4 linked regions of the Homo sapiens genome follow. The protein of the gene in region 2 purifies or fractionates together with the protein of the main gene of each other region. This does not show direct contact. Each region holds a gene or a part of one and is shown on either strand. Other genes may lie near its edges. The genes, in order: LRP1B, DEFB123, COL6A2 and CACNA2D2.

The links.
Region 1: the proteins of DEFB123 (region 2) and LRP1B purify together in Homo sapiens (affinity purification with mass spectrometry; one large-scale study listed by BioGRID and IntAct). This does not show direct contact.
Region 3: the proteins of DEFB123 (region 2) and COL6A2 purify together in Homo sapiens (affinity purification with mass spectrometry; one large-scale study listed by BioGRID and IntAct). This does not show direct contact.
Region 4: the proteins of DEFB123 (region 2) and CACNA2D2 purify together in Homo sapiens (affinity purification with mass spectrometry; one large-scale study listed by BioGRID and IntAct). This does not show direct contact.

Annotation. Positions count from the first base shown.
Region 1 is NC_000002.12:140,353,302-140,357,285, forward strand, and holds part of LRP1B (low-density lipoprotein receptor-related protein 1B precursor), read right to left. Parts: intron 3,176-3,984; coding exon 3,041-3,175; intron 1-3,040. UniProt on the Homo sapiens protein: Potential cell surface proteins that bind and internalize ligands in the process of receptor-mediated endocytosis.
Region 2 is NC_000020.11:31,439,183-31,443,809, reverse strand, and holds the start of DEFB123 (beta-defensin 123 precursor), read right to left. Parts: upstream 3,179-4,627; 5' UTR 3,112-3,178; coding exon 3,054-3,111; intron 1-3,053. UniProt on the Homo sapiens protein: Has antibacterial activity.
Region 3 is NC_000021.9:46,128,735-46,133,455, forward strand, and holds the end of COL6A2 (collagen alpha-2(VI) chain isoform 2C2 precursor), read left to right. Parts: intron 1-168; coding exon of another isoform or gene 169-194; exon of another isoform or gene 195-461; coding exon of another isoform or gene 462-757; exon of another isoform or gene 758-1,067; intron 1,068-3,219; coding exon 3,220-3,818; 3' UTR 3,819-4,114; downstream 4,115-4,721. UniProt on the Homo sapiens protein: Collagen VI acts as a cell-binding protein.
Region 4 is NC_000003.12:50,364,448-50,367,692, forward strand, and holds part of CACNA2D2 (voltage-dependent calcium channel subunit alpha-2/delta-2 isoform b precursor), read right to left. Parts: coding exon 3,195-3,245; intron 3,075-3,194; exon of another isoform or gene 3,051-3,074; coding exon 2,947-3,050; intron 2,663-2,946; coding exon 2,564-2,662; intron 2,473-2,563; coding exon 2,384-2,472; intron 2,182-2,383; coding exon of another isoform or gene 2,179-2,181; coding exon 2,131-2,178; intron 1,892-2,130; coding exon 1,820-1,891; exon of another isoform or gene 1,717-1,819; coding exon 1,564-1,716; exon of another isoform or gene 1,416-1,563; coding exon 1,363-1,415; exon of another isoform or gene 1,242-1,362; coding exon 1,186-1,241; exon of another isoform or gene 1,036-1,185; coding exon 909-1,035; intron 738-908; coding exon 628-737; intron 530-627; coding exon of another isoform or gene 524-529; coding exon 441-523; intron 360-440; coding exon 219-359; 3' UTR 1-218. UniProt on the Homo sapiens protein: The alpha-2/delta subunit of voltage-dependent calcium channels regulates calcium current density and activation/inactivation kinetics of the calcium channel.

The sequences.
Region 1 (3,984 bases), on a different chromosome or scaffold from region 2:
ATATTAAAGCTTCAATTTCAAACTTCCCTGGGGCTTTCTTTTTTCTTTCTTAAAATTTTTACTTATTTATTTTTTTACCTTTTAAGTTCATGGATACAAGTGCAGGTTTGCTACCTAGATAAACTTGTGCCATGGGGGTTTGTTGTATAGATTTCCATTCACGCAAATAGACCTGTCTTGAGGTTTTCTTTTAAGCTGTTTCTGATGACCTACCTCCATGCCTTCGAAGGTATCATGGGCTATTCTTTCATCCCGTAATGCCCTTGCCCACTTTTCCATACAGAATTTCTACTCATCTTTCAAGATCCACCTGAAATAAAGCCTTCCTTGGTCTCCAACCATATATGGGAGTGATGATTCATCCTTAGTTTCTCCAGTTTTTGCTCTCCTGGTGTTTCTCTCTTACACTGTTGCTTATATTTCAGGAATGTGGTTACATATTCATATTCCCTTGAGGACATAAATTATGATACATTCCTTTTTTATTGCCAGATTTTGCACAATGACTGGCAGAGAACAAAGATTTGGGCACATCTCTAACACACTTCTGGACTCATATATATGAAGTGACTACGTAACAAGAAGGGCTGTATTGAGGTTATGTGATGTGAATTAAGCAAGCAAAATCTGCATGCCTATATATGAATAAATACCTCTAAATCACTAGCATAAATAAATAAATCACAGGCAGTATTCATGTGATTTAATCAGAGTCATGTAGCTTGGCACATGACTCTAATTTTAAGGGCTTATGAAGAGCCAGGATTGAGGCCAGGTGATTCTAGGGAATTATCTAATTTTCCTCTCTTTTCCTCCTCTACTTTTGTGTTTAGCCAGCATATTTCCCCTGCCTCATTTTATCACTTATAATCTCCTAATTACCTAATAAATCTGTGAGATAAATCCTTCCCTTGAATTAGAGAACTTAAGAATCAGCACAGTAAGAATAACTATCTTTTGCGTAGCACACAAACAATGTTCTAAGGGCTCAGAGGTAGAGACACTTGTAAATCACAACGTCAAGGCTTAAACTCAGGTTTTCTGATTTTGTTGACTTTACTGTGATACTTTGCCTAAGAACACATAAGCATTTTCATGACCACACATTGCTATTTGATTGAAATGTAGAGTAAAGAGATGCAGAAAAGTGTATTTCGTTGTTTTTAATAAATATTTTACAGGAATGAAGTAGAATGCATCTTGTCAGTACTTAACCATCACGATTACAACAAATATTTCTGATTTGTTCAGCCCCTGTAACTTTGAACCGGCAGTTATTTGTCACTATGGTTTCCCTTTGGTACAGAATCCAAATAAGCAGTATTCTGCATGATTTCATACAACCTCAACTTCCTCACTTGTCATTATACTGGCCTGAACCATCATTTTCGCCTCATCTCTAGAAAGCCTGGATCATGAGCTTTTGAAGGGGATGGAGGAATTCCACACATGCCTAGTACCCAAAACAGTACCTGGCACTCAGCAACTGTTAATCCCCTTCTAATTTTCTTCCACCATTCCTCTTTACTTTTTTCCCTTTAGATATTCTAATTGAAGTGTTTGGGCTTTAACATCAAATAGCAATTTCTTATGCATTTTTTCAGATACATAAGTGAAGGGCACAAACAAATTTAAATTTTTGGATTATAGAATCCAATTATGTCTTACCCTTCTTTGACACTGAAATAGAACTATTTTCCTTAAAATCAAAACTTTATTTATTAAAAATAGATGAACATTTTATTAGAGTTCAGAAGTTACTCGTCTGTCCTACAAAATAATACAAAAAAGTGGATTCATAGCAATTTAAAATAAAGAATGTAGTGTGCAGGTTATATTTGCTGTGGAATGTAATTAAAAATTAAGAAAACTTTAATAATATAATTTCTAAATTTAGTACATATATACAGAAAAAACCCACTGACAAATATTAGAAAATAAATGTTATTGAAATTAAAATATTGAAAGAATTGTGTGTGTGTGTGTTTATATGTAATTGATAGAAAGAGCCTGGGAAAAATAAATACCATAGTTTGAAAGATAATTCATTTTTTAACTAAAACACAGAAAACCTAGGTTGTCATCTTTCAGTCTCATAGTAATGGAACAATCAAATGTCACGAATAATCCAAATACACATTTAACTCAAAATGTAGATAAACATGACGTGACTACACTTTTTCCCCTTTTGGGTGAGTAGAATCAATTCATTTAAATAATTCCATTTTGATTAACACGAAGTAGAATCATTTTTCTTAACCTCAAAATATCACAAAGAGACATAACAAAAGCAAGCTGGTAGGTAAAAGCACTTAAAGACTTGAATTTAGCCTGGATAAGCCAGACTTAGTTATTTTAGGTTTGGCTGTACTTACATTAATATGAATATGAATACAAATAGCAGTTTTATTGGAGAAACTTGCAGAAAGTGCATATGGGTCTGTATTTCATGGTTCTATAGTTAGAACACTGATGTAATTATATTTACTTACTTACTATAAGATTTTGGCTATCCTACATGCTCAATTTTTAAATGATCTCAAGTAAGTTGACAGATTTATGTAGATCCTGACTTTGAATTTTTAAAGATACATTATGATCTATTTAAAACATGGTTTTAGGACAAAAGCCCATGACTCTCTAAATGTGATTTACCTATTCCAGTATTGCAAATTCCACACTCAAGAGAAATGGGTCATCATAAACATATTTTTTCATGAAGCAAGACTAATTCTCCAATAGTTCCTGAACCAGGAATTTCGTTATTTGCATTTCAAAACAGTATTGTAGCAATAGAATTGAAATTCCTGCAGCTCTGAATTTGCTATAGAAAAAGCTTTGTAGCCTCTGTCGTGGTTAGCTTAGCTCCACAAACAAGCTCTTGACCCCAGAGACTTTCATTCTCATAAGTGAAATGGTATCCCGTAGATACACACCATTTTGATGAAAGTCAATCCCCTGTGATCTCACAATTTAGAAGTCTTGGGAATCTTCATAACCCAAAGATTTATGAGCAAACTGTTGAAGAAAAGTACTCTACCTTCACATTGTCTGTTTTTCATGTTTCTCTGAAATCCAGGCTTACAGCGACAGAAAACAGATGTTTTTATTTGATTACAATATGCATCATCTCCACATGGATTCACATTATCTTCACAGGTATATTCAGTAGGAGCTGGGATTTAAAAATATGATCAAAACTAATATAATTCTAATTCCTGAAGTGGGGAGTTAACTTTTAAAAAATGTTTGAAATGGTATTTATTATTCCACAGATAACTCTTTTTGAATGTACAAGGTTACGGTCTTCTCTCCATATAAGCCCCCATGTCTTATAAATGTATAGAAGTATAAAAACTAAACTCATTAACATTAAATACAGATTAGACCAAGCTGCTAACAGTTGATATTTAGAGCTGCTGTTAAGCTGTAACACTTTTTAAAAATAAGTCAGGAGTCAATGATTCTAATGACAGGCTATCTTTATTATAGTACGATATATGAGTACTACATCCTTCTCTGAGAGCCAAAGCATTTCCTATAAGCTACCTAGAAATTTAGGCATTTATTGCTAACCTAAGCTTAATATTTGTAAACTCAATCAAGGGTACTGCTAAGTTACTCAAGCAAGTTGTCTAAATCAGCAGTTTAAATTTCATTTTTTTATGCTGGACATACATATGAAGAGTAACATTTGAGTGTGTAATGTGCTCATAATGGTTGGTCATAAGCTGCAACATTTTAGGACAGACAAAAAGTTACTTGTAATTTCCAGGATAGCAGTTGCAATTTTATTACTTTATCTCCCATTCAGGAAAACATTTTAGAAGGCCTTCTCTTTTAAATAAATGAGAGGGACATTATTATAGAGACATCATATCATCTCTAAGTTACTTAAATCAAATTTTTGAGAAATGTGAGAACTTTAATTATTATCGTTGTAACCCCACTGACTTGAATATTTTGCAATTAGTTAAAATAGGT
Region 2 (4,627 bases):
ATACTCTGCCCATAATTTCTGGGGAAGCTGGAAGTTTAAATCCAGCTCCCGCAGCAGCAGCAGTGGGCCTGAGAGCCCTGCTAGAACCCATGCCTCATTCTGCCAGCCTGATGGTGGACCCACCAACAAGCTAGGGACAAAGGCCTTTCGTGTGTCTCCTGCTAGCAGTCTACTGGTTGACCTGAACACTCAGGAAGTAGAGATAATTAATGTGAGAAAGGTAGGGGCAAGAGAGTCTCTTGCTATGAATACCCAGATTGGTCGAAAGAAATTGCCAACGCAGAAGACACTTACTCTCTGCCTCTTAGAGCATAGCTCAGGGAAACTGGTAGCTCTTCAGAGAAATTCTTATCTTTAGCATGGATATAGCACTGCATGGTGCTACCTGAAGGGGGATTAGAAATGGCTAAGGGAAGTGGCTGAGCATCACTGTCAGCTCTCTGTTGAATAAAATAGACCCAGAAGGTCCCCAGGTTCCCTTGTCTCTGGCTGAGATAGGAAAACCAGTGAGGGACCTGCCAAGAGTACACCCCTAGTGCAGAAGGCAGTAAGGGAGGGTGTGAACAGCCTTAACTTGGGGACCAGATGGAAGATCTGGCTGAGATGAAGGGTCGAGTCAGTGGGGACCCCAAAAGGGCTGAGAGATTTCATCAGTCATGAAATCCAGTAGTAAGTGCTAGCAGGACGCTACTAACCACATCCAACGAGGGTCGTGATCCCAGAAGTCAGTAAGGGTCCAGCACAGGACCTGACCCCACCTCCTTATGTTCCTATCCCAGGACCCTTGCACTTGCTGTTTTCCCCAGCTTGAATTTCCTTCCCTCCATAGCCACATGCTCACACCGGTTGTTCCCTCAGGTCACAGTGAGACATTCCATGAACAACCCCTTAAAAATGGCAAAGACCGGGCATGGTGGCTCAAGCCTGTAATCCCAGCACTTTGGGAGGCTGAGGCAAGCAGATTGCTTGAGGTCAGGGATTCAAGACCAGCCTGGGCAACATGGCCAAACCGTATCCTACTAAAAATACAAAAATTTGCCAGGCGTGGTTGCAGGCGCCTGTAATCCCAGTTACTTAGGAGGCTGAGGCATGAAAACTGCTTGAATCCGGGAGGTGGAGGTTGCAGTGAGCTAAGATCGTGCCTCTACACTCCAGCACTCCAGCCTGGGTGACAGAGCAAGACCCTGTCTCCAAAAAAAAAAAAAAAAAAAAAGCAAATGACCTTCCCCTTCCCCTGGTGTTCACTATTTCCTTTCCTGCCTATTCTGCTCACTGTACTCATTATCTGACATACCATATGTTTCATTTATTTTTCAAATTCTTTGGGTCCTCCAGTAGAAGGTAAGCTCCAAGAGGACAGAGATTTTGCTTATCTTGTTTTGTTCCCAGTTCTACCTCTAGCACCCATCACAGTGCTTGGAACAAGAAATCCATTCAACTGTATTTACTGAATGAAGCAATTAATTATTTGATGACATATCAAGTTACTTTTCCCTGTAACCAGATACTATCCCAGGAAAGAGAAAGGGTGATGGAAGAAAGAGACATGCTGAAAGACTCAACACTTATTCAAAAGAGATTGAATTAGCTTAGAAATCATTTTAAAACAGAAAAGACAAATATTGAACTGCTGAGTTCAGGCCCAGCCCCTATGTGCCTTGTCACCCTGGGTTGTAAGTGCTATTTAACTGTCTCCCCTAGTTTGCTCCCCTGGTGCCATGTCATTTATCTCTGTAGTCCTGCTCCTCCCACCACTAACTCCCACAGTCAGGATGGAAGTTCCTGGGAAAGTTTGGTGAGTTAGAGAAAATAGAGAAGCCATATTTCTTTTGCAGACCAAAATTTCAGTGTGTTCAATGTTGTTCCCTCAACCTGATATTATTACACACTTGATGTTATTGCAGTTTGAGAAATGAGGAAATTGATACTCTGAGCAGCTGAGCTTCTTGTTGGGGCTCACAGAGTCAGAAAATGATGGGGCAGGTTTTAACCCGGGGTCTGGGCTTTCCTCCCTACTCCAGGTGAGTGGTGTTTTAGGGCCTCAGGAAGACACAAGGACGGAGGTCAGCTTGTTTAGGAAATTCACACGTTTCTGACTCTGTAGAAAGGTTAGCCGACAGCCTTAGGGTGGGTGGAAACTTCTGCCAGATGAGCAGGAAGGGATAGGTGGCTCATGCTGGAATTGGTGGGTGGTAGGTCTGACCAGGGTCTTTCTCTGTTTAAACCTTCCCATGGGTCCCTCACCTGGCATTTGAGGCCCACTGAGACCTGGAGCTTGAATGCTTCCTCAGCTTTACCCCCGCCTCTCTCCTAACCCACCCCTCCATGTTATGCAGGTCCCCGACACTCCCATGCTCTCTCCCGCATCCAACCTTTGCATAGGCTGACCTCTCTGCCTGGGACACCCTTCTGCTTTCCCCTCTCCTTCCTTTTCTATTTTCGACTCACTTTTTAGGACTCAGGATATCCCTCCAGGAGGACTCTCCTTTCCCTCAGCCTGGGCTGGACCATGTGTACCCAGCCCCCTGGTTTCCCACTGCCACAGCCGTGTCACCCTGGGTTATAAATGCTATTTAACTGTCTCCTCCAGTTAGTTCCCCTGGCACCATGTCATTTATCTCCGTGGTCCTAGCTTCCAGCGCAGAGTCTGGCACAGAGACAGCTAAGTACAAATGAGCTTTCTCTCCCATTAAGGTAGCTGTGATCTTCACAAAGCTTCGTTCATTCTGGGGACTATTTTGCAAAAGGGCCATACCTGCCTCTCCTCTTTCCTGCTTCTCTTGCTCACCCCTCCCACTCCTCCTCACACACTAGGCCACCCCCACATGCTCCCTGGAGCTGGGCAGGAAGAGGAGGGATGGAGCCGCTGAGAGAGCAGCTCTGGATGTTGTAGTTGTCATCTATCAGCTGGCACCTGCTGCTGGTGAGGCGCCTCCTGCCTCCTATACGTGGTGCTAGATGACAACCTGCAGCCCATCCTTCTAGCCCTTGGGATTCTCTGACCAGGCCTTAGTCTCTAAGCCCTGCCCCTTCCTTAAGGAGGTTCAGGTTACCTGGAGTCAGCTGGGATAAGAGCAGCAGCACAGTCAAAGTCAGCAAAAGGAGCTTCATGGCTAAGGCAGCCCAAAATGAAGCTGCAAGTCCGATGCCACGGCTGAGCTAATGGGAGAAGGAGAGTGCCTGGCCTGTGGCTCGCACTCCCTCAGCTGCCCACGGGTACAGCCCTCACACTCTGACTGGACACCCCTCCCTTTGTCATTTAGGTCAGCAGGGAGAGGACAGCCAACAAGGTCCAGGGCCCAAGACTTAATATACTACCCGTTCCTTCCACCCAGCTCCAAACTGCCTGAACCCAGTGACCAGCAGGAGGCGCCACAAACACCGGCTCCGGAAGGTCAGGGAAGACGGCAGAGTTTTGAAGAATAAATACAAAGCAACAGGTAGATGAGCTGAAATGGGGTTCCAGGTGGAGGAATGTCTGTACAAAGGCTCATGTTGGTGTTGAAAATGAGAAATATGACATAACCAGAGCAAAAACTGAGAGGAAAACGGCAGAAAGAGATGAAGCTCCGAGCACCAGCCTGTCTGTCACAGCCCCCTGCTGGGTTCTAACATGCGGTGGCCCTCCCCCTAGGGTCATCCTTCCGCTTCCTCAGAGATCTGAGAACCAACCACTCAGAATCCTTCTTCTGAACTCGGGTTTTGAAAACTCATTCTTGGCCGGGCACGGTGGCTCACGCCTGTAATCCCAGCAGTTTGGGAGGCCAAGGTGGGTGGATCACTTGAGGTCAGGAGTTCGAGACCAGCCTGGCCAACATGGTGAAACCCCATCTCTACTACAAATACAAAAAGTAGCCAGGTGTGGTGGTGCATGCCTATAATCCCAGCTACTTGGGAGGCTGAGGCAAGATAATCGCTTGAACCTGGGGAGGCTGTGGTGAGCCGAGATCGCGCCACTGCACTCCCGACTGGGCGACAGAGCAAGACTCTGTCTCAGAAAAGAAAAGAAAAGGCATCTCTTTCCTTTAGTTCCCTCAGCCCTCGGGTGGTAGCTGCATCCTGTAGTTACTGTTTCTCTGACTGGACCCTGCTTGAAACAGATGTCAAGGGTATAATAGCATACAGAGGGATTACAAGGGAAAAACAACAACAACAACAACAACAGTGAAAGCCATTTCTGTAGGGGCAGAAAACAGTCAATGGGGTTGAAAACTGAAAGGTAAGTGAAACAGTGAGGTCAGCAAGTGTAAATAATTCTTTCTAAAACCCTTACAATGAAGAGAAGAAGAGACACTGGCTAGGAAGGGACTCAGTGGAAAGCCTGGAAGTCCACCTTTCCTGTGCTGTTCATTTTTGGTAAGGAGGCTCATTTCATTTCTTTTTTTTTCTTAATTTTAAAAACTATTTTTTATCTTTTTGTTTTTGTTGTTGTTTTGGATACAGGGTCTTGCTCTGTTGCCCAGGCCTGGAGAAATAATGTATCTGTTGGATTCTTTTCTCCCTAAAAGAAGAGATTTTCCCACTGCCTGAAATGCCAGGATATATGGAGGATTTTTGTATTGAGAGTGACAGCAGAGTTGAAAATATTGGGTAACTAGTCCTGACACTGCTACTAGCTTTCTATGTG
Region 3 (4,721 bases), on a different chromosome or scaffold from region 2:
AGGGGAAGACAGTTCTGGGTGTAGAGGACTCACATCCCAGAGAGGCTGAGGAAGGGTTTACCACCGCAAGCTTTCTCAGGCGGGCTCTTGAGGGGTGGCTGGGGTCTTCCTGGCGACGGGCCTGCGGCACTGGAAGCCCTACTGGAGTTTGGCCTGTCTCCGGCACAGGTTTGGACGGAGCTGTTTTGTGCTGAAAGGTTTTCTCGGGGTCCGTGGTGTCCCCCAAAGGTGCCACCGTGCGGGTCTCCTAGCTCCCTGCCAGCTTCCTGTCCCTGTGCTCACTGCCCCCACGCCTCCTGCCAAGGCCGAGCCACACACCCGCTCCACCTGCATTTCCTCTACCGACTCGCCAGCCCAAATGCCGCTCTTCACTCTGGCCTCGCTGAGCGGCTGCCCGAGGAGGAGCTCTAGGCCGACGCCCACCGCAGGCCTTACAGTCTTCTCTGGACGCTCCCTTGCAGATGCACCGTGGCCTGGCGGCGAGCCCCCGGTCACCTTCCTCCGCACGGAAGAGGGGCCGGACGCCACCTTCCCCAGGACCATTCCCCTGATCCAACAGTTGCTAAACGCCACGGAGCTCACGCAGGACCCGGCCGCCTACTCCCAGCTGGTGGCCGTGCTGGTCTACACCGCCGAGCGGGCCAAGTTCGCCACCGGGGTAGAGCGGCAGGACTGGATGGAGCTGTTCATTGACACCTTTAAGCTGGTGCACAGGGACATCGTGGGGGACCCCGAGACCGCGCTGGCCCTCTGCTAAAGCCCGGGCACCCGCCCAGCCGGGCTGGGCCCTCCCTGCCACACTAGCTTCCCAGGGCTGCCCCCGACAGGCTGGCTCTCAGTGGAGGCCAGAGATCTGGAATCGGGGTCAGCGGGGCTACAGTCCTTCCAGGGGCTCTGGGGCAGCTCCCAGCCTCTTCCCATGCTGGTGGCCACCGTGTCCCTTGCTGCGGCTGCATCTTCCAGTCTCTCCTCCGTCTTCCTGTGGCCGCTCTCTTTATAAGAACCCTGGTCATTGAATTTAAGGCCCACCCCAAGTCCAGAATGACCTCGCAAGACCCTTAACTCACTCCCGTCTGCAGAGTCCTTCTTTGCTGCATCAGGTCACCCTCACAGGCTCCAGGGTTTGGGTGTGGAAGTCTTTGGAGGCCCTTACTTAGCGGCCCAGCTGGGCTGCCGTGCGTCTGGGATGGGGCTGAGGGAGGGTGCTGCCCAGGTGCTGGAGGATGTTCCAGCACCAGGTTCCAGCGGAGCCTCGGAAACAGGCCCCAGAGGCTGGTGAGCCTCGCTGGGTGTGGGCACTAATCCCGTGCATGGTGACTCGTGGGCGCTCACGGCCCACCTGGTGGCAGGTGAAGGCTTCCGGTTGGGCAGCAGATAGTCCTGGGGGAAGCTGGCAGTCCTGGCACCATGACGTATCTGGGCTGGTGTCATGCACAGTAGGGCGAATGGCCACAGCTGCCTGCCAGCAGCCCTGATCCCGGGGTGTCTGCACCCTTCCAGCCCAACCTCTGGGTCTCCAAAAGCACAGTCGGGGGAGCATCCACCAGGCACAACCTCTGCGGTCCTCAGAGGACTGAGCAGAGAATCCCAGGGTCCACAATGTTGGGGAGCGGCAGGGATCACCATCCAAAGGGAGCGGCCCCCACGGCGAGCTGACCCCGACGTTCTGACTGCAGGAGCCCTCATCCAGGCTGGGCTCCTGCCGGGCACGGCTGTGACCATTTCTCAGGGCCAGGTTCTCGTCCCCACACCCACTGCACAGGGCAGGCCAGGCTGGTCTTCCCACTGTGGGGATGAAGGATCCTCCACAGGAGGAGGAGAGCAGAGTCCACAGACATCCCAACAGCCTCAGCCTCCCTGTGCCTGGCCGGCCCCCACAGCTTCCCCGTCTCCTCCAGGCCCCACAGACACTGATGAATGGACAGAGACCCCCAAAACCAGCTGCCCCTTGCATGTCTGTCTCCATATGTTTGGTGACAGCAGTGAAAATGTTATTAGTTTTGAGGGGGTTTGGGAAGCCCAGCGGTACCTGAGGAGTTTCTGGACATTTAAGCCGGTTCCTAGGTGTGGCCTTAACAGGGAGGCTGCCCTTCCTTTCACTGAATGAGCTGCGTCACTCATAAGCTCACTGAGGGAACCCCATCTGCCAGCTCGTGCGTGCTCAGACGGCGTCCATGTCTCAAGCGTTCTGTGAAGGCTGCGGTGCAGCGTGAGGTCACCCTGCTGTGTTCAGAGCTTTGCTCACTGCCTGCGGGGCTGGACCGTTGCACCTCCAGGGCCCCCAGAAACCGAGTTTCGGGTCAGGGTCCTCTGTGTGCATTCCTGGGGGTCCATGTACCAGCTGTGACGACGTCCAGGGGTTGGGCTGAGAAGCAGACACCCTTGGGGAAACTGGCTCTGTCCCTCCCCTCCCCCATCCCAGGAGCTGAGGTCTTGGTGAGGCCACAGGGCCAGGTCCACGCAAGGACTGTCCGTGTCCTGTCCTGTGGTCTCTGGCCCCACGTGACACCCACACGTGTGGTAGGCAGCCTGGCCTGGGTTGTGGCTATGGCCAGGCCCCCAAGCTGTCCCCGATGCCCAGGGCTGGTGACCACCCAGGCAGGTGGGGGCCCCACTTGGTAACAGAGTCATAGGGCAGAACCCACCTGGGCTGCCACAGAAGGTCTGGCTGCCCCTGTGCCCACTGCTCCCCACCATGGCCAATCAGAAGAGTCAGGGGCTCCTGGTCTTTCCGGGAGGGACGTGGCCCAGCCAGCTCTAGGTGTTCTGAGCAGCTCTGGGACCCAGCGATTGAGGGGTCAGGCTGGGGGTGTCAGAGCCAGGGTCCTCCTTAAGTACCTCCCACACTACACAGACAGTGGCCCTTTTGTGGGCAGCAAATTCTTGAGCCATGAAAGGATGCTTTGGGCCCCTTCCCTCCCAGGAGGGCAGCCTGTGCAGGGATGGTGCTCAGCAGGTGGACAGGGCCTGGGGCCTGTGTCAGGGTCTCAGGCCTGGGAGCACCAGCAGAGGAGATGGCGGCTCCCAGCAGTGCCGCCTGAAAGTGTCTTGGGCTAAGGACCCACACCCAGGGCTGCCCTGCAGAAACGCCCCCGCAGAGCCCAGTGGTCTGTGAGGTTGCAGGCAGGGTGCGAATGGAAGGGCACAGGTGCGGGGCTGGCACCTGCCCGGTCCTGCCCACCTCCCCTCCGCCCAGCCCGCACCTGCGTCTCCCCACAGAGCTGTCCGTGGCACAGTGCACGCAGCGGCCCGTGGACATCGTCTTCCTGCTGGACGGCTCCGAGCGGCTGGGTGAGCAGAACTTCCACAAGGCCCGGCGCTTCGTGGAGCAGGTGGCGCGGCGGCTGACGCTGGCCCGGAGGGACGACGACCCTCTCAACGCACGCGTGGCGCTGCTGCAGTTTGGTGGCCCCGGCGAGCAGCAGGTGGCCTTCCCGCTGAGCCACAACCTCACGGCCATCCACGAGGCGCTGGAGACCACACAATACCTGAACTCCTTCTCGCACGTGGGCGCAGGCGTGGTGCACGCCATCAATGCCATCGTGCGCAGCCCGCGTGGCGGGGCCCGGAGGCACGCAGAGCTGTCCTTCGTGTTCCTCACGGACGGCGTCACGGGCAACGACAGTCTGCACGAGTCGGCGCACTCCATGCGCAAGCAGAACGTGGTACCCACCGTGCTGGCCTTGGGCAGCGACGTGGACATGGACGTGCTCACCACGCTCAGCCTGGGTGACCGCGCCGCCGTGTTCCACGAGAAGGACTATGACAGCCTGGCGCAACCCGGCTTCTTCGACCGCTTCATCCGCTGGATCTGCTAGCGCCGCCGCCCGGGCCCCGCAGTCGAGGGTCGTGAGCCCACCCCGTCCATGGTGCTAAGCGGGCCCGGGTCCCACACGGCCAGCACCGCTGCTCACTCGGACGACGCCCTGGGCCTGCACCTCTCCAGCTCCTCCCACGGGGTCCCCGTAGCCCCGGCCCCCGCCCAGCCCCAGGTCTCCCCAGGCCCTCCGCAGGCTGCCCGGCCTCCCTCCCCCTGCAGCCATCCCAAGGCTCCTGACCTACCTGGCCCCTGAGCTCTGGAGCAAGCCCTGACCCAATAAAGGCTTTGAACCCATTGCGTGCCTGCTTGCGAGCTTCTGTGCGCAGGAGAGACCTCAAAGGTGTCTTGTGGCCAGGAGGGAAACACTGCAGCTGTCGCTCGCCCACCAGGGTCAATGGCTCCCCCGGGCCCAGCCCTGACCTCCTAGGACATCAACTGCAGGTGCTGGCTGACCCCGCCTGTGCAGACCCCACAGCCTTGATCAGCAAACTCTCCCTCCAGCCCCAGCCAGGCCCAAAGTGCTCTAAGAAGTGTCACCATGGCTGAGGGTCTTCTGTGGGTGGACGCATGATTAACACTAGACGGGGAGACAGCAGGTGCTGAGCCTGTTGTGTTCTGTGTGGAGATCTCAGTGAGTTTTTGCTGTTCAGACCCCAGGGTCCTTCAGGCTCAGCTCAGGAGCCCCACAGTGAACCAGAGGCTCCACAGGCAGGTGCTGACCTGACAGGAGTGGGCTTGGTGGCCATCACAGGGCACCACAGACACAGCTTGAACAACTACCAGTATCGGCCACAGGCCTGGAGGCATCAGCCGGGCCATGCTTCCTCTGGAGGGCTAGAGGAGGACTAGAGAAGGGCCTGCCCCGGCCTCTCCCCAGCATCCCAGGGTTCCTGATCTCCTG
Region 4 (3,245 bases), on a different chromosome or scaffold from region 2:
AGTTCGGAGGTGAGATGTGATTTGGGTGCCAAACACCTGCGGCGTCCCGCTTTGGGACTCCCCATCCCAAGGCGCAGACCAGACTCTCAGGGCCTGGCCAGCTCAGGTCCTTCAGTGAGGGAGGGACGAGGCTCTAAGGCGGGGAGTGTGGGGCAGGAGGGTGGGAAAGGCGAAGAGGCCGGGTGAGGTGGGAGTGGAGGTGGGGTGGGGCAGGGTGCTCAGAGGCGGCGAGAGGCGTGGACGAGGACTTGAGGCTGCGGCCGGGGCGGCAGGCCCAGGAGGAGCAGCAGTTGCAGGGAGACCAGGACGCCCAGCGACGGCGGGAAGGAGGCCCCGCGGCCACAGTCTGAGGTATCTTCCTGCGGGGAGAGACAAGGAGCTGGTCGGCCTGGGCGGGCGCAAGGCCGCGGGATTTCGGGTCCACCGCCCCCTCTCCTCACTGTCGCGTTGTAGTCGAAGCAGATGTGCGGGCCTCTCCGGTATCGCGGTCTCTGCACTAGCTCACACTGCTCCGGGCCGTCCGCTGGGCATGGGTGGGGAGTCAAGGAGGCGGACGGCGGCGGCGGCACGGAGGGGGCGCGCGGGGCAGAGGGGGAGCGGGCGGCGGGGAGGGCGGGGGCAGGATACAGTGCGTCTCCTTCTGCAGCAGCCGGCCAGCCTCGCACTGGCTGCACAGCGGCTTCTCGGCCACCACAAAGAGAAGATTGGTGTTGGTCAGTCTCTGCGCGTGGAACAGCCTGCGGGCAGCCCGGAAAGGCGGGGCGTTGAGTTTGCCCCGCCCTGACCCACCCCCATCCTGCGGCCCCGCCCCCGGCCGCTCGGAGGCCCCGCCCCTTCCATCCTCCCGAGCGTCTCGCCCCGCTCACAGGTTCCGCCCTTGGCCTCTGGTCCCGCCCCACTGCCAGCACCTGGAGCAGTTTCCGCAGTCGATGATGGCGTTGTAGGAGGCGTTTACCGAGCCGAAGTAGTACTGGGTCTGTTTCATGACGCAGCTGCTCTCGCGCGTCTCGGGGCTCCCCTCGGCCTCCGCGGGGTCTGCGAGGGCCCAGAGCGCCTCAGCTCCGCCCACAGACCCTGGCAAGGTCTCCGGCCTCCCTCAGTCGTAGACCCCACCCTCCCCATGGAGTCGTCTTAGCTCAGATTGGGGACCCGGACTTGAGGAGGCGCCTCCAAAGCCCTACCTACCTGCTTGGAACCAGCTGTGGTAGATGAGGCCGTAGAGAAGCTGCTGGAACAGGGACCTGCAGCGCACGGGGAGCCGAGTGCAGGTGGTCAGCAGAGGACGATGCCATGCCCTACTTCTCTTCTGAGCCCTCCCGGCCAGGGAGCACCTTCTCTACCCACCTCCCGCTCAGGACTCACCAGGCGGCAGCAGAGGTCCACCAGGCCAGGTTAAGGAAATCTGCAACGGTGGGCTGCAGTGGAGAGAGGGGCGTGGACTGCCACTGCTGCCCCTCGCCCTAGGTCACCCCCAGCTTTATCAAATGTCAGAGGTAGGGGGTCATCTGTGGGCAGGTCTCCCAGTCCCCCCCATCTCCAGTCCAGGCATCTCTGGGGACTCACCACAAAGACACCCCGGGGTGCAGCACCCAGGTTGCCAGGGGGCTGAGGGGCACAGGCTGCCTGATAGTCATAGGACTCCTTGCGGGTGTAGAAGGAGTTATTGTAGAGTGCCAGCATCAGGTTGGCATCCACCTCACTGAAGAACCTGCCCACCTGAGGATGTCAGGAGAAAGCCATGGTCACAGGGCTGGCAGTGCTACACCCCTAGAAGGCTCAAATCCCTACTCTCTTCTTTCACTCTCTTCCTGATCCTCACCTGGTCCCACTGATGGTTCTGGTTTGACAGCACCAGGAATCCTCCATCATCAATGAGGACACAGAGTAAGTCCTAGGAGGAAGGGAATGGGGAGGAAAATGGAGAGGGGCTGGGCCCCGGACCTTCCACCGCAGGCAGTCCAGTGGTTCAGAGTTGGGGGGCATCACTCCCCCAGTCCTGGGAAGGCTGTGAAGTCAGGGTGGGGATGTTGAGACCCACAGGCCAAGGGATGTGCTGGGAGTCGCGGCTGGGACTAGGAAGTCTGGAAGTGGGGTAAGCTAGGGTCCAGGGTAGGTTCAGGGCACACACACCTCATTGTTAACCTCGCAGTCCATCTCACAGTGGCTGTTGGGGCCGCACTGCTGGGCAGAGAGTGAGGACCGTAAGCCACCCACCAGTTTTCCTCCCTCCCATCACCTTTCATACATCCGGTTCCCCAGGCCATCTGCAGCTGGCCCTGCCTCCATGTAGGTGTTGGAGCCACTGAGTGGAGGGTTGGTGGGGGTTCCAGGGGACTCCAGGAAGGGCACTGCTGGGTTACTGCCCCCGCCCCTGCCCAAATACCTTCTGAGGCTGGTCTTGGTGGGTACGGTTGCTGGCTAGCACCTTGAACTTCTCAGCCCAAGCCTCTAGGTCCAGCTTGACGCCCACCACTTTGGGGGAGAGCAAGGGACCATCAGTGCTACCTGCCCAGGCAGTACCCTGTCCATTGCCTGTTTCCCCACCTCTGTCCCAAACATTCACCTGCTGGCCTCAGTGTGCGCCTGCCTAGGCTGAGCTCCACAGCTGTGCTGACGAGGATGCCCACAGTGTCATTCTCCAGCTCCAGCGGCCTTAACAGGGCTGGGGGTTGGGTGGGGAAGTCAGGAGTGGGGTCTGGCGGCCACACTGACCACTCTATGCTGGGTCCTACAAACCCAGCAGTCCAATCCCGGGATGACTCCAGCCCAAGCACCCAGCACTCAGGACAGTGTTTGGCACAGTCTATCCCTCTTTTCACGTCTGCCCTGGCCTCAGCCAGCCTTGTGTTGGAGAGGGGCCTCAGACAGCAGAGCCCAGTTCTGGCTGAGCAGACAGGGAAGCTGAGGCTCCCTGCCTGCTGCTGGGCACACTGCGGGGACACTCACCATCCTGGTGTGGGGGCTTGAAGACATAACCGTGGTTATCCAGGCTGCGGCGGTAGAAGCTGGCATTGAAGGGCTCAGGGTTCTCTGTCCAGTCCTCAGCTGCCCTGGAGCACCCAAGAGGCAGACTGGTAGGTAAGGGGTGGCTTGTCGGGGACAGTGGTCTCCACAGATGCAAGGAGGCCTCTGGGCAGAACAGATGCAGGTTCCCTGGCAGGGGCAGGGTTTGGGTAGTGGGATAGGTCACTTACTTGTTGGGGAAGACTCGGGTGATGCCACCGTCTGTGGCAGCGAACACGGCC